Linked DNA regions of Homo sapiens: region 1 is linked to region 2. Evidence: fine-mapped expression QTL. Tissue or cell type: whole blood. Region 2 holds a variant in brackets; the other region holds the start of a gene. All regions are shown on one strand. Distances are between the middles of the regions.

Evidence for each region. PIP is the estimated chance that this variant, and not a neighbour inherited with it, causes the effect.
Region 1: it holds the start of SACM1L, and the variant in region 2 is fine-mapped to the expression of SACM1L in whole blood (INTERVAL, PIP 0.95).

What each region holds. Positions count from the first base shown.
Region 1 is chr3:45,685,781-45,691,766 of GRCh38, reverse strand. SACM1L (SAC1 like phosphatidylinositide phosphatase) reads right to left here and starts at 2,371. Exons shown (of 20, transcript NM_014016.5): 1 at 2,270-2,371. The coding sequence starts at 2,301. LIMD1-AS1 (LIMD1 antisense RNA 1) reads left to right here and starts at 2,885. Exons shown (of 3, transcript NR_033947.1): 1 at 2,885-3,391. TRR-ACG2-1 (tRNA-Arg (anticodon ACG) 2-1) reads left to right here and starts at 2,696; the gene lies at 2,696-2,768. It overlaps LIMD1 (LIM domain containing 1), which reads right to left. Exons shown (of 8, transcript NM_014240.3): 8 at 5,426-5,986. RefSeq lists a silencer at 2,180-2,359 and enhancers at 2,390-2,679, 2,940-2,989, 3,500-3,569.
Region 2 is chr3:45,757,486-45,763,390 of GRCh38, reverse strand. SLC6A20 (solute carrier family 6 member 20) reads left to right here. Exons shown (of 11, transcript NM_020208.4): 9 at 319-478; 10 at 3,369-3,534; 11 at 4,264-5,905. The coding sequence ends at 4,413. Among named protein-coding and RNA genes, the nearest start is that of SLC6A20, 36 kb to the left of the region's middle. The variant C/T (reference allele first, on the strand shown) is at 2,617.

The DNA of each region.
Region 1 (5,986 bases), 72 kb after region 2:
GGTGTGCATCTGTAGTCCTAGCTCCTCGAGAGGCTGAGGTGGGAGGCTCGCTTGAGACTAGGAGTTAGAGGCTGCAGTGAGCTATGATCAAACCACTGTACTCCAGCCTGGGCAACAGAATGAGACCCCATCTCTTTAAAGACAAAACGAAACAAAAGAAAAAAAAAACAAGCATTTCAACATTTAAATAAATCCTTTTAGCAATCCTTTTGTAATAAAATAATCGAACTATCTCTTTTGCATGGATATTTCTTAAAACACATCTCCAGACACATTTTAAAAAATGGCTACTATCTCCTACCAATTCTTACACAGAAACCAATTTCACTTCTAAATGCATCCAAAAAAGAATACTCCTTAGGGCAGGAGCCACATTTGAAAACCTTCAACAGCAGCCTCAGAGCAGGAAGGGCCAAAAGGAAGGAATAAAAATGGAAACTCTAACTCATAAACCCCTTGGTAAAGAAAAAGGTGCAAAAAAGTTGTACCTTCACATTTACAGAAACACTCTAAACTTTTTTTTCAGGGGGAAAAAAAGCTAGGACTGACAAATGAGAGAATGACTTTCACATAACCCCAGTTTGACTTTATCACCCAAATAATTTAAGAGTTTCCACTTCTCACAAAAATCAATACAAAAACATCATTCTTACTACTTCAGGGACAAATTTCCTTTCTCTTTTATGTATGCGAGGATTTGGGTTTGTTTTAAGGTCTGAACTGGTTAAATTTAGTGTTCTGGCAGCTGAAAAACAATCATCATAATTCTCAAGTTCTCCATCCTATTCAATCTTTGCCACGCTAAGCTGCATGAAGCCATGGCTCCATATGGCTTAAACACATTTGAGACCTGGTGTAGGATCACATTAAACCCTTCAGTGCCTATCAGATACACAATAACCTAATTAGCTAGCAGAGCACATGTGACAGTGGCCTGGCCAGAAACGCAGTGGAAGACACTTCCTTCAACTCTTTCACCAAAGACGAGGTGAGCACTTTGCAAAGGGGAACTGGGAGAAAATAGGGAAAGGTGGAGAGGAAAATGTGGAGGGAAGTGTGCAGCTAGGGTTTTCAAAGAACATTACAGTAAACAGAAATGGCACCCACAGGGGGTGCACTGTAGAAAAAGCAATCATCTTTTTTGCAACACATACAATGTGGAATAGATGACCTCTCTGAATTTTGCACCTCTAACTTTCCACTGAACCTTTCAGAAAGTTACTAGTGAGGTTGAGGTCTGAGGAGCTTAAGTGCCCAAACCACATTTTGGTGTCATTTCCCTGCAAAAGAAATGCGGTATCTATGCCTAACTGCCAAGGTATTTTAGCTCATATACAGGGATAGATAAGCTTCTAAAAAATTACATTTGTTTCTCCTACCAGATATTCCCAGGCTGTGGCCACCAGATTTTCAAACAGCCTAGGGGTAAAGCATTAAACACGAAGTGAGTACAACAAAATTATTCACAGACAAGAAAAGTGTGGATGCTAATGGGTAACACTAAGGGAAATAAACACATGTTGTTTTTAATCCAAGACAAACCAAAACCCTTAAAAACACCTATTTTATAACTCTTAACAACCACAGCCTCTGTATCAAAGACTCAAGAACTTGGATTTACCGAAAAGTCAATTTGCAGTACCAAAATTACCGAGATTAGCCTCTGGCTGTCGACACTGACTTAAGAACCTGCTTTAGGCTGGAGCTGTTTAAAATTTAAACCAAAGTAAACTCCTTCAGGACCTTAAGACTACTGACTGTACTTTAAATTTTTTCTGCACACTGAAGAGGGGGCAGGCAGGCTTCGGTACCCAGATAGGCTGTAAGCAAAACAAAGATTTGTTGATTTGTGCGTAGACTCTAAATTGCTGCTGTAGGTCCGTTAAGTAAGAGAAAACTCTTTTTCTCTGTTAAGTCATACAGATAAATTTAGTCGGTAGCTCTGCATAGAAAGTGGGGACAAGCGTGCCCTGAAGGGCCGCATCATAACGCCGACCCCGGCTCGGTGGGGGCCAGTCGGCAGCTTCTCTCTTCAGCCGTGGGCGCTGGGGCCGAGCACGGTGGAGAAAGGCCGGCGAGCCGCTGGTTCCCGGCCTATGGCTACTCGGGCGAGGCCTAGGAGAGGCCGCGCCGGCTGAGGAAAACCGGTAAATGCGAGGAGCTCCCACACCCTATCTGCAATCCGGGACTCAGAAGCCCTCCCCGAGGCCAGGGCCCGCACCTGCCGCCCCGCCCGCCGCGCCTCAGGCCTCTGGCCCGTGGGACTCACAGCTTCAGCTGCTCGTAGGCCGCCGTCGCCATCCTGCACAACCACCTCCTTCCTTCTCTCTCCGCCCGCCCCGCCCCGCGCCGCCACCTCGGCTACAACTCTACCGGTCACCCTGGCACAGCGGCCGCAGCTCCCAGCCTCTTCCCACCCCTTTCCCCGCCCCGCAGGAGAGCCGGCCTGAACGGGAGGCGGTGGAGGACAAATTAGTGCGCAAGCAAGAGCACGCGAGAGATGCCGCCGACGCGGCGGGTTGGAGTGCGACGAAGAGCGCCGTGACGAAGCCGCTGCGGATTGGTGGGGCGCGTTTTGGGGAAAGGCAGAGCAGCGGGAGCGCGGCGCAAGGGCAAAATGGATCGTTGGTACCCGGAAGCCCGTTCAAACTGTATAAGGGTGATCAGCTATCACGGAGAAGGCTTTAGCAAGTCGGGGCCAGTGGCGCAATGGATAACGCGTCTGACTACGGATCAGAAGATTCTAGGTTCGACTCCTGGCTGGCTCGCGATGTCTGTTTTGCCACACTTGACCCATGTACTACTGGGTCTTGTAAAGATGTATATTCACAATGTGAAAGTATTACAAGACCTTGGAAAGGTGTATGGTTAGAATGTGAAAGTTAAATATCTGAAATTTTGATGCCGCTTTGCTCACAATGTCATCCTTTATCCTTTAAACCTGGAGTTGTCTGAGGTGGTTTGCAAACTGCAAAGCGCCCTGTTCCCAATGATGCACCTGAGAAGTCTGTAAATGGGGTAAATTTAGGCAAACACACCTGGAAAAGTGGCATTTTGGAGTGGGGAATGCTGTGGCCGGAGGTTAGCAACCGGATGATGCAAAAGCGTATTTAAGGCAGCAGTTCTGGCCTTTCCCCGCCACGGAGCAGAAGCCCCCATAGTGATGTGAGAAGCGGCGCTGTCCCAGTTTACTAGGATGGGATGGGCTTTGGATCTAACCAGCAGCGAAGAAAACCTGCGGTGCGGCTGCGCTCGGTAGTAGGGGTCCACAAAGCGTCAGAATCTGCAGCAGCCCCGGCCTTTGCGAGCTCCAGCTCCGAAGTCAACCCGGCCCCCAAATTCCACTGGGAAACCTTAAGACACCGGTGTTTTTACCGTAAGAAGACCTCAGGTAATCTAGTATATTACCCCTCATTGTATGGATGCGCGACTTGGACACCCGAGAAGGCGCGAAACGTCTGCGGCCTAAAGGGACTCGAACCGGGGGATTATATGAGTCATCGGACACTGTCCGTTAACCAATCACTCAATCGATCAATTAATTTCCGCAACATAACGTTTTCCCCTGATAAAATTATAGATTTTTAAAATATATAAAATTATTGGGAATATTAACGCGATTCCCACCCTAAATCATTACTATTATTTTTTTTTTCCTTAAAGCCTTTTTTTCTTCTATATTTTTTAACATGGGCATACTTGCACATGTGTTTTTCCAAATTGGGGTTGTACGGAAATGGGTTCCTCATTTTGTCTCCTTACCTTTTTGTCTGAGATTTAAGGTCATTAAATATTCTTTGAAGATATTTCATCAGAGAGCTAGATATTTTAAGCAGAATCCTTATGCTGGGAATTTGGGTGGTTGTCAGTTTAACACCTAGAAAAAATGATGCTGCTTAGGAGTTCGAGACCAGCCTGGGCAACATAGCAAGACCTCATCTCTATTTACTAAATAAATAAATAAATTTTAATTAGCCAGGTGTGGTGGTGTGCACCTATAGTCCTAGCTACTCAGGAGGCTGAGGTGGGAGGATCACCTCAGCCCAGGAGGTTGAGGCTGCAGTGAGCTGTTACCATGCCACTGCACTCCAGCCTGAGCAACAGAATGAGACCCTGTGTTGAATTATTATTATTTTGAGACGGAGTCTCGCTCTGTCACCCAGGCTGGAGTGCAGTGGCGTGATCTCGGCTTACTGCAGTCTCTGCCTCCCGGGTTCAAGCAATTCTCCTGCTTCAGCCTCCCAAGTAACTGGGACTACAGGTGTGTGCCACCACGCCCGACTAATTTTTTGTATTTTTTAGTAGAGACGGGGTTTCACCGTGTTAGCAAGGATGGTCTTGATCTACTGATCTCGTGATCCGCCCACCTCAGCCTCCCAAAGTGCTGGGGTTAGATGTGAGCCACTGTGCCCGGCCGAATTATTTGTCTTACAAATTTCTAGAGGTGGAACGACCAGGTGGACATCTGTAAGGTCCATTTTATGGACATTTTTAAGACTTTTGTTACTTTCTGACTGCCCTCCAAAAAATTAAACCAAAACACACTTCCATCAACAGCACCTGTTTCTCTGTTTTCGTGCATGCTAACCAACACTGGCTATTATAAATTTAACCGTGATTTGCAATTTTCATAATTGGAATATGGAACTTCCTTTTACATGTACTTTATATATTTTCTCTTGATGTATTGAATTTTTTCTTACAAATTTGATTTTTTAATATATTAAGGGTATTAACTCTTAAATACGTTGCAATCTTTTTTCCAGCTTATGATTTACCTTTTCAAAATTTTTTTAACGGCTGGGCACGGTGGCTCATGCCTGTAATCCCAGTGCTTTGGGAGGCCAAGGCAGGTGGATCTCTTGAGGTCAGGAGTTCGAGACCCGCCTGGCCAACATGGTGAAACCCTCTCTCTATTTAAAAATACAAAAATTAGCAAGGCATGGTGGTGTGTGCCTGTAGTCCCAGCCACTCAGGAGGCTGAGGCAGGAGAATTGCTTGAACCTGGGAGGTGGAGGCTGCAGTTGGCTGAGATCACGTCACTGCACTCCAGCCTGGGTGACACAGTGAAACTCTGTCTCAAAAAAAAAAAAAAAAAAAAAATATATATATATATATATATATATATATTTGAACTTGTAGTAATTTTCACTTTATATATTCACACTTACTAATATTTGGTTTCTTCTATTATATGATTTTTTAATGTTTTGTTCTTATGTTGTTTTTACCATTTACTTTAATCCATTTGTCATTTATTTTGTTGCCATTTATCATGATGTAAAGATCAATTAATCTTAAAACCTGACACACTTTATTGAGCAATTACTTCATGCCAGAAACTGCTCTAATTCCCTTACTTGGATGAATTCAATCATTCCTTACAACAATTGTTGTACCTGAGCGAGTTAGAAAAACGCCACACTTTAAGACGAATTAAGAGTCCTTTATTAGCCAGCGACCGAGAGACGGCTAACACTCAAAATTTTCTCAGCCCTGAGGAAAGGGCTAGATTTTCTTTTATACTTTGGTTTAGAAAGGGGAGGGGGGGGTCTAGTTAAAACAATTTTACAGAAATAAAGTAGGCAAAAAGTTAAAAGGATAAATGGTTACAGGAAAGTAAACAGTTCCAGGTGCAGGGGCTTTAAGACTATTACAAGGTGATAGACCCGGGGCTTTGGGCGTTATCAATCAGACGAATTCCTGGGAATTGCGGATATAGCTTGCCACAGTATCTTATCAGTTAATTGCATTCTTGGATGTGCTGGGAGTCAGCTTGCACAAGTTAAGTCCTTGAGGAAGGGGTGCCAGTGAAAGAGCCAAGATGGAGTCTGTCTGGCTGTCTTAGCTAAGGGAGAGTCAATTCAGGTGGAAACAAGGCTAGGTGATTAAAGGAAGAGGGAGAGTCTAAAAACAGGGTTAGTAAAAACAAGGTTGGGCATTACACAATCCCATGAGGTAAATTCAGTTGTTATCCCCATTTTTA
Region 2 (5,905 bases):
GCGGGATCCTGGAATGACAGTGCCCACTACGTCTGCTTGTTCATTGAGCTTTAAGCTCTGCCACCCCTGCAGGGCAGCTCAGTGAGTCAACATCAGTGACCCCTGCCAACACGCTTCGGGACACCATTGTGCCCCCTGCCCCACACACGTGGCACACACCTTCAGAGAGTCCAAACCATGACAGCTCTTTCAACCCATGTGGATGAAGCAATCAGCCAAAATTCCCTGAGGGCCGACGACCCCACTGTCCTGTAGAGAACTGGTAAGCAGTAGTGGGGGGGTCTCGGGCAGGTGAGCAGCTGGTCTTGTGGCCCCCAGGTCTGGTGTGCCTTGTCAACTGTGCCATTGGCATGGTGTTCACGATGGAGGCTGGGAACTACTGGTTTGACATATTCAACGACTACGCGGCCACACTGTCCCTGCTGCTCATCGTGCTGGTGGAGACGATTGCCGTGTGCTACGTGTACGGGCTGAGGAGGTGAGGAGGCCCAGGACCCTCATTTGCATAGGGAAAACACAGCCACAGAGGCCACGCCCCTCAAGGAAAACAGCTGTTTCTTGATGCACATCTTCACCTCTTCTTTAAGCTTCGCATCATGACTCAACGTTTGTTCTTTGCCCGCAGATCTCAGCTTATGCTCTGCCTCTATTCCATGCTCAGTTTGCTTCAGTGAATATCTTTTTCTCTATTCCCTGTACTTTTGCTTTGTATCATAGGCTGTTTTAGGGTTGACCCTGCTGGACCCCCACAGCTTACTGGGGCAGGGAATTGTGCCTCCAGGCACTGGATGCTCTGATCATCGGCCAACATCAGTATTTTCCAAGAACCCTGACCAAAGTCCAGTTGATAACTTAGACCTTAGAAAATTTGGCAGATTCAAAATTTAGTCAGTGAGGTTCTCAATCCCAGTGCACAGCACGGGACTGGAATGTTTTAGTTCTCCCCAGGTGATGGAATGTGCAGCTGGGGCAAGAGCCACTGGTCTAGAGCAACCTTCAAACTCGAGTGTGCCTCAGAGTCCCTTGGGCTGGTCAAACACAGCTGTGAGACTCACCCCCAGGGTTCTGATCAGGCAGGCCAGGGGAGGGCCAAGAATTCACATTTCTAGCAGGTTCCCAGATGAGTCTGGCACCCACACTTTGAGAACCACTGGCCTAGAGAGCTTTGCTACCTCAAGTGTGGTCCCTAGAGCGGGAGCAGCAGCAACAAGGCGCTCGTTGGGACTGCAGAAGCTCGGGCCCACCCCATCCTGCTGAATCAGATCCTGTATCTTCACACTATGTCCAGGGGGCCTGAGGCACATCACAGTTTGGGCAGCGCTGCTCTAGTGGGTGCGGTTTGGGCGAGGAGGCTGTGCCACGTTGTTTTCTGCCCTCTTCCCCAGTCTTTTTGATCCTCTGTGCTGGTTCAGGGTGGGGAGGGAGACATTGACAACACTCTGGGAGGCAGGCATCCCTGAAGCAGCAATCCCTGCTGTGTCCCCGGAAAGGCCAGGGTCCCGTGCCATGCTGAGGGATCTCCCATGATCCATCAGGACATAAGTTAAACAAAGCCAAATTGATGTCTTTCCCGTAGGACTTCTCAGAATCTTAAAGACAGTTGTGGATCCCAAAGAGAGGGTTAGAATTGCAGCATTTCCAGACTTACTTGGTCAAGGAATGCCTTTTCACCCTCCTCTCACCCGACTCCCACCCTTAGCTACTAACATTTTGAGGACACTAGTGTTAAGGGGACCAACTCTCCCTGTTTCCCCAGGATTGAGGGGTTTTCTGGGACGTGGAACTTTCAGTACTAAAATTGGGAAAATCCCTGGTCACCTAGGAAATGCCAGTCTAGAGGGAGAAAGAGATTGGTCACTGAGAGGGTGAGTGTTTCAGGATAAAAAGAGAAGGTTGGGAGAGAGGAACAGAACCTAGGGCCCGCTGGAGGTCACTAGATGGGTGAGGGGCACAAGTCCATCAAAAAGGGGCTGGTGAAGGGAGACAGAGGCAGAAACAAACGTGCCTTGGAGATGTCGTAGGTGGACTGACCATGTAAGTGGCAGGAGGGGAGTGCTTCGGCTTGCTCAGGTGACACCGCCATCTAGTGACCACCCAGCAACAGTGTCCTGGGGCTTTTCTGCAGCCAGCTCTTCCCAACTTTCTCCATCCAGGAAAGGGGGGGGGGTTATGGGGGTGTGAAGGGACAAGAGGACCCCCAACACTTTTTCACCTGTCTGATTTTGAAAGCCCCAGGTTTTCGTGTCACATACATGAGCCTTCATGGCCTGCAGCCTAGAGTCCAACTACGTCAGCAGCAGCAAAGGGCAGGTGGTGGTCGCCACACAGCCTCGCATGGACACCCAGGACATGCAGCAGGTCCCAGGGAGGGAGGGGCTGTGGCTGCAGCTGGTGACGTCACACCCACACCACCCCAGCCCCTCCCGCCAAGGCTGCCTCTTCCGCTGTAGGGAGCAGGTTTAAAGGCTCTGGGCTGGAGGCAGGAGGCCAACCCAGGTTCTGGGCCTGGTCTTTACCAAGCCCTAAGGAAGAAGGCATCGCAGCCCTGGGCCTTGGTTCCTCCTGTGTGAAATGGGGAGTTTCGTTGGGCCAACATCTCCCAAAATGCCAAAGATA[C/T]TTTTTATACTGTGTACGTGTATTCAAAAACACACGTACTTAGTTTGTCAAGTCGATGAGAAACTGGCTGCTGTTGTGCTGCTGCTAACCGTAGGTTTAAAAGTAAAGAAGAGGGAAAAGAGAGCTACAGGCATGATGGAGGTGGTGATGGTGGCTGTGGGCAACGCCTTTGGGACTCACTGCCCTGGCCACTCTAGACCAGCTCCAGCAGGCCAGGGCTACGGTCCTTCAGTCCGAGGTTGGCTCTTCCTCTGTCCCAGAAAACCTGCTCTGGTTTCAATGGACCAAGTGATTCTGCTCCGTGGTGTTTCTACTGGGAAAGGGAGTCACTGATTGACAGGGGCGGGCTGGGTAGGGGGGTGGGCAAAGCCGCCCAAGAAGTCCCTGTCATTGATGACCAGCCTGACAAATGTCCATCCCCTGCTGCCTGTGCCCACCATTCCTGGAGGCTGCCCTCTGGGCTATGCCAGCAGCCTTCATCTGAAGGCTGGCATTAGGAAGGCGTCTTCTGATGTCCACTCTCTGCGGGTTGCTTGCTCCGTCATCCCTTCTGGGCAGCCTCAGCCCTTCTCCCCTCCCCACCGCAGCACTCGTCTCTCAAGAAGGTGTCACAGAGGAGCCCAGTGGCCAAGCTCAGACATCCTTTACCACCTAGAACAGAATGTTCCTTTGTGAATAGGGACAGGCAAGCTGGACGCCCTGACCTCCGCAGCCTGGTTAATCCAGACTTTCTCTCCCTGTTTTCCAAATAGATTTGAAAGTGACCTTAAGGCCATGACCGGCCGAGCTGTGAGCTGGTACTGGAAGGTGATGTGGGCTGGCGTAAGCCCACTGCTGATTGTCAGCCTCTTTGTCTTCTACCTGAGCGACTACATCCTCACGGGGACCCTGAAGTATCAAGCCTGGGACGCCTCCCAGGTATCTACTGTCTCCGTAGGGCTGGCGCTGGGCCCCCATGGCCACTGAAAAGCATGGGCCATTCATTTTCCGAAACCAGGGGACTATTTCCATGGTGTGGGTAGGTTATTTGTCACGACATGGAAATATCACTGAGGTATTTTAGAAATAGTCCAGCACGGAGGAGCTGGGCTTTGAGCTTTTAGGTATGTGCTTCAGTGGGGCGAGAGGAAGGCACTCCTCCAGAGCTTCCCCATCCACCTGTCCCCCGGAAGCTGAGAAAAACTCCCGCTGCAAAGGCGCCAGCTCCTGCCTCCTGAGCAGCGCTCTCCTCCGCGCCTACCGCAGCAGACAGCACTGACAGAGAACGTTGCTACCTTCACGGGAAAGTCCCATTCCAGGCTAAGAGTAGTCGCCTACAGTTTAGGTTCCCTGAAAGTTGCCTTAGACATAAGGTGCTTGATTATTACCATGGTTATTCATTATGGGTAGCTCCAAACAATAGCTCTACACCCACTGGTTCAAGTAGTTACTATTATTCCTAGTTTATGGAAGAAAAAGAAGGTGAGGGCAGTTAGGCTCCTGGCACATTTGCTAGTGAATTGCAGAGCCCGTGGCCCCAGGAGTGAGGACACCGGCCCCACATGCTCTCTGCCCACGTCACATCACCTCCCCATCACGGATGGGCCCTGAGGCCCAGGGGCAGTGCTCAGCAGGTGCTCTCTGCTGACACTCAGTCTCTCCTTTCAGGGCCAGCTCGTGACCAAAGATTACCCGGCCTATGCACTGGCTGTCATCGGGCTGCTTGTGGCCTCCTCCACCATGTGCATCCCCCTGGCGGCCCTGGGGACTTTTGTTCAGCGTCGCCTCAAGAGGGGAGACGCAGACCCCGTGGCCTGAGATGTGGGCTTCCCAGCCGCTCACGGTTTTACAGATACTATTTACAGGCGGAAACTCCTCGGCTGCTTTTTCAAATGCTTAAGCCAGGAGTGCTCAGCCCATCAACTTCCTGAGTGTCTAAAGAAGATGAGGAAGGTGTGCAGGAAGAAAACTCCCTTGGGAGAACGCACACCCTCCCGTGGTGGCTGTTCCTCCCTGTCACCTGCCTCCTCATCATGGAAGGGGGTGGGCTATGAAAGCCGGTCTCAAAGATAACTGCATCCTTCATTCCAGGAAAGCCCTAGAATTAGGGCACATTGCAAACTGAAATATGACTATAATTCTTATGGGACCAAATTTAAGCAATTTTTGTTTTTGGCTGAAGAGACACCAAAATATTAGAGGACAAATATTTTTAGATCCATTTAAGGAGTTTTGAAGTGCCTAAGATGACCTATTTGTCAGTGGTGCAAAATTAATTCTCTTCTTTTTTGAGTTGTAGTGAATATGCAATTTCTGTGTTCCCCTTCCACCCTTTAAATCTTAGGATGACAAGTTATAAAGAAAGAAGATCTTTGTCTGGGACCCCCAAAGGGATCCTTTCTCTAAGGTCTCTGACGGTGGGTCCAGGACCAGACCTCTCTACAAAAAATTGCCCCAACTACAGTTTGCAACCCCAAACCACATTAGAAGTCTGTGCAGACATCCCTCCGTGGTGTGTGTCTTGGTGCATTGGAAAAGGAGTCAGGAGCCACTGTGAGGTGAGAATGAAAGTGGATCTCAGCTGGGCACGGTGGCTCACGCCTGTAATCCTAGCACCTTGGGGGTCAAGGTGGGTGGATCACTTGAGGTCAGGAGTTTGAGGCCAGCCTGGCCAACATGGCGAAACCCCATTTCTACTAAAAATACAAAAAAATTAGCTGGGAGTGGTGGCATAGGCCTGTAATTCCAGCTACTCTGGCTGCTGAGGCACAAGAATCATTTGAACCTAGGAGGTGGCGGTTGCTGTGAGCCAAGATCATGCCACTCCACTCCAGTCTGGGCGACAGAGCAAGACTCTGACTCAAAAAAAAAAAAAAAAAAAAGTGGCTCTGACTTTCCCATAGGCTTAATATTACATTTGGACATCGTGGCCAACTCTATCAAGACCACAAATACCACTTACAATTAATTTTAAATTATTCATCTGTACATAGTTTTCTAAAATGTATATAATTCAAACAGAGCATCTTGTAACTGAAGACACACCATATCTATGATATCGCATTAGTCCATGTGGGGAAAAGAAAGATCAGATTGTTACTGTGTCTGTGTAGAAAAGGAAGACATAAGAAACTCCATTTTGATCTGTACTAAGAAAAATTGTTTCTGCTTTGAGATGTTGTTAGCCTATAACTTTAGCCCCAACTCTGTGCTCACAGAAACATGCGCTGTAATGAATCAAAGTTTAATGGATTTAGGGCTGTGCAGGATGTGCCTTGTTAACAATATGTTTGCAGGCTGTATGCTTGGT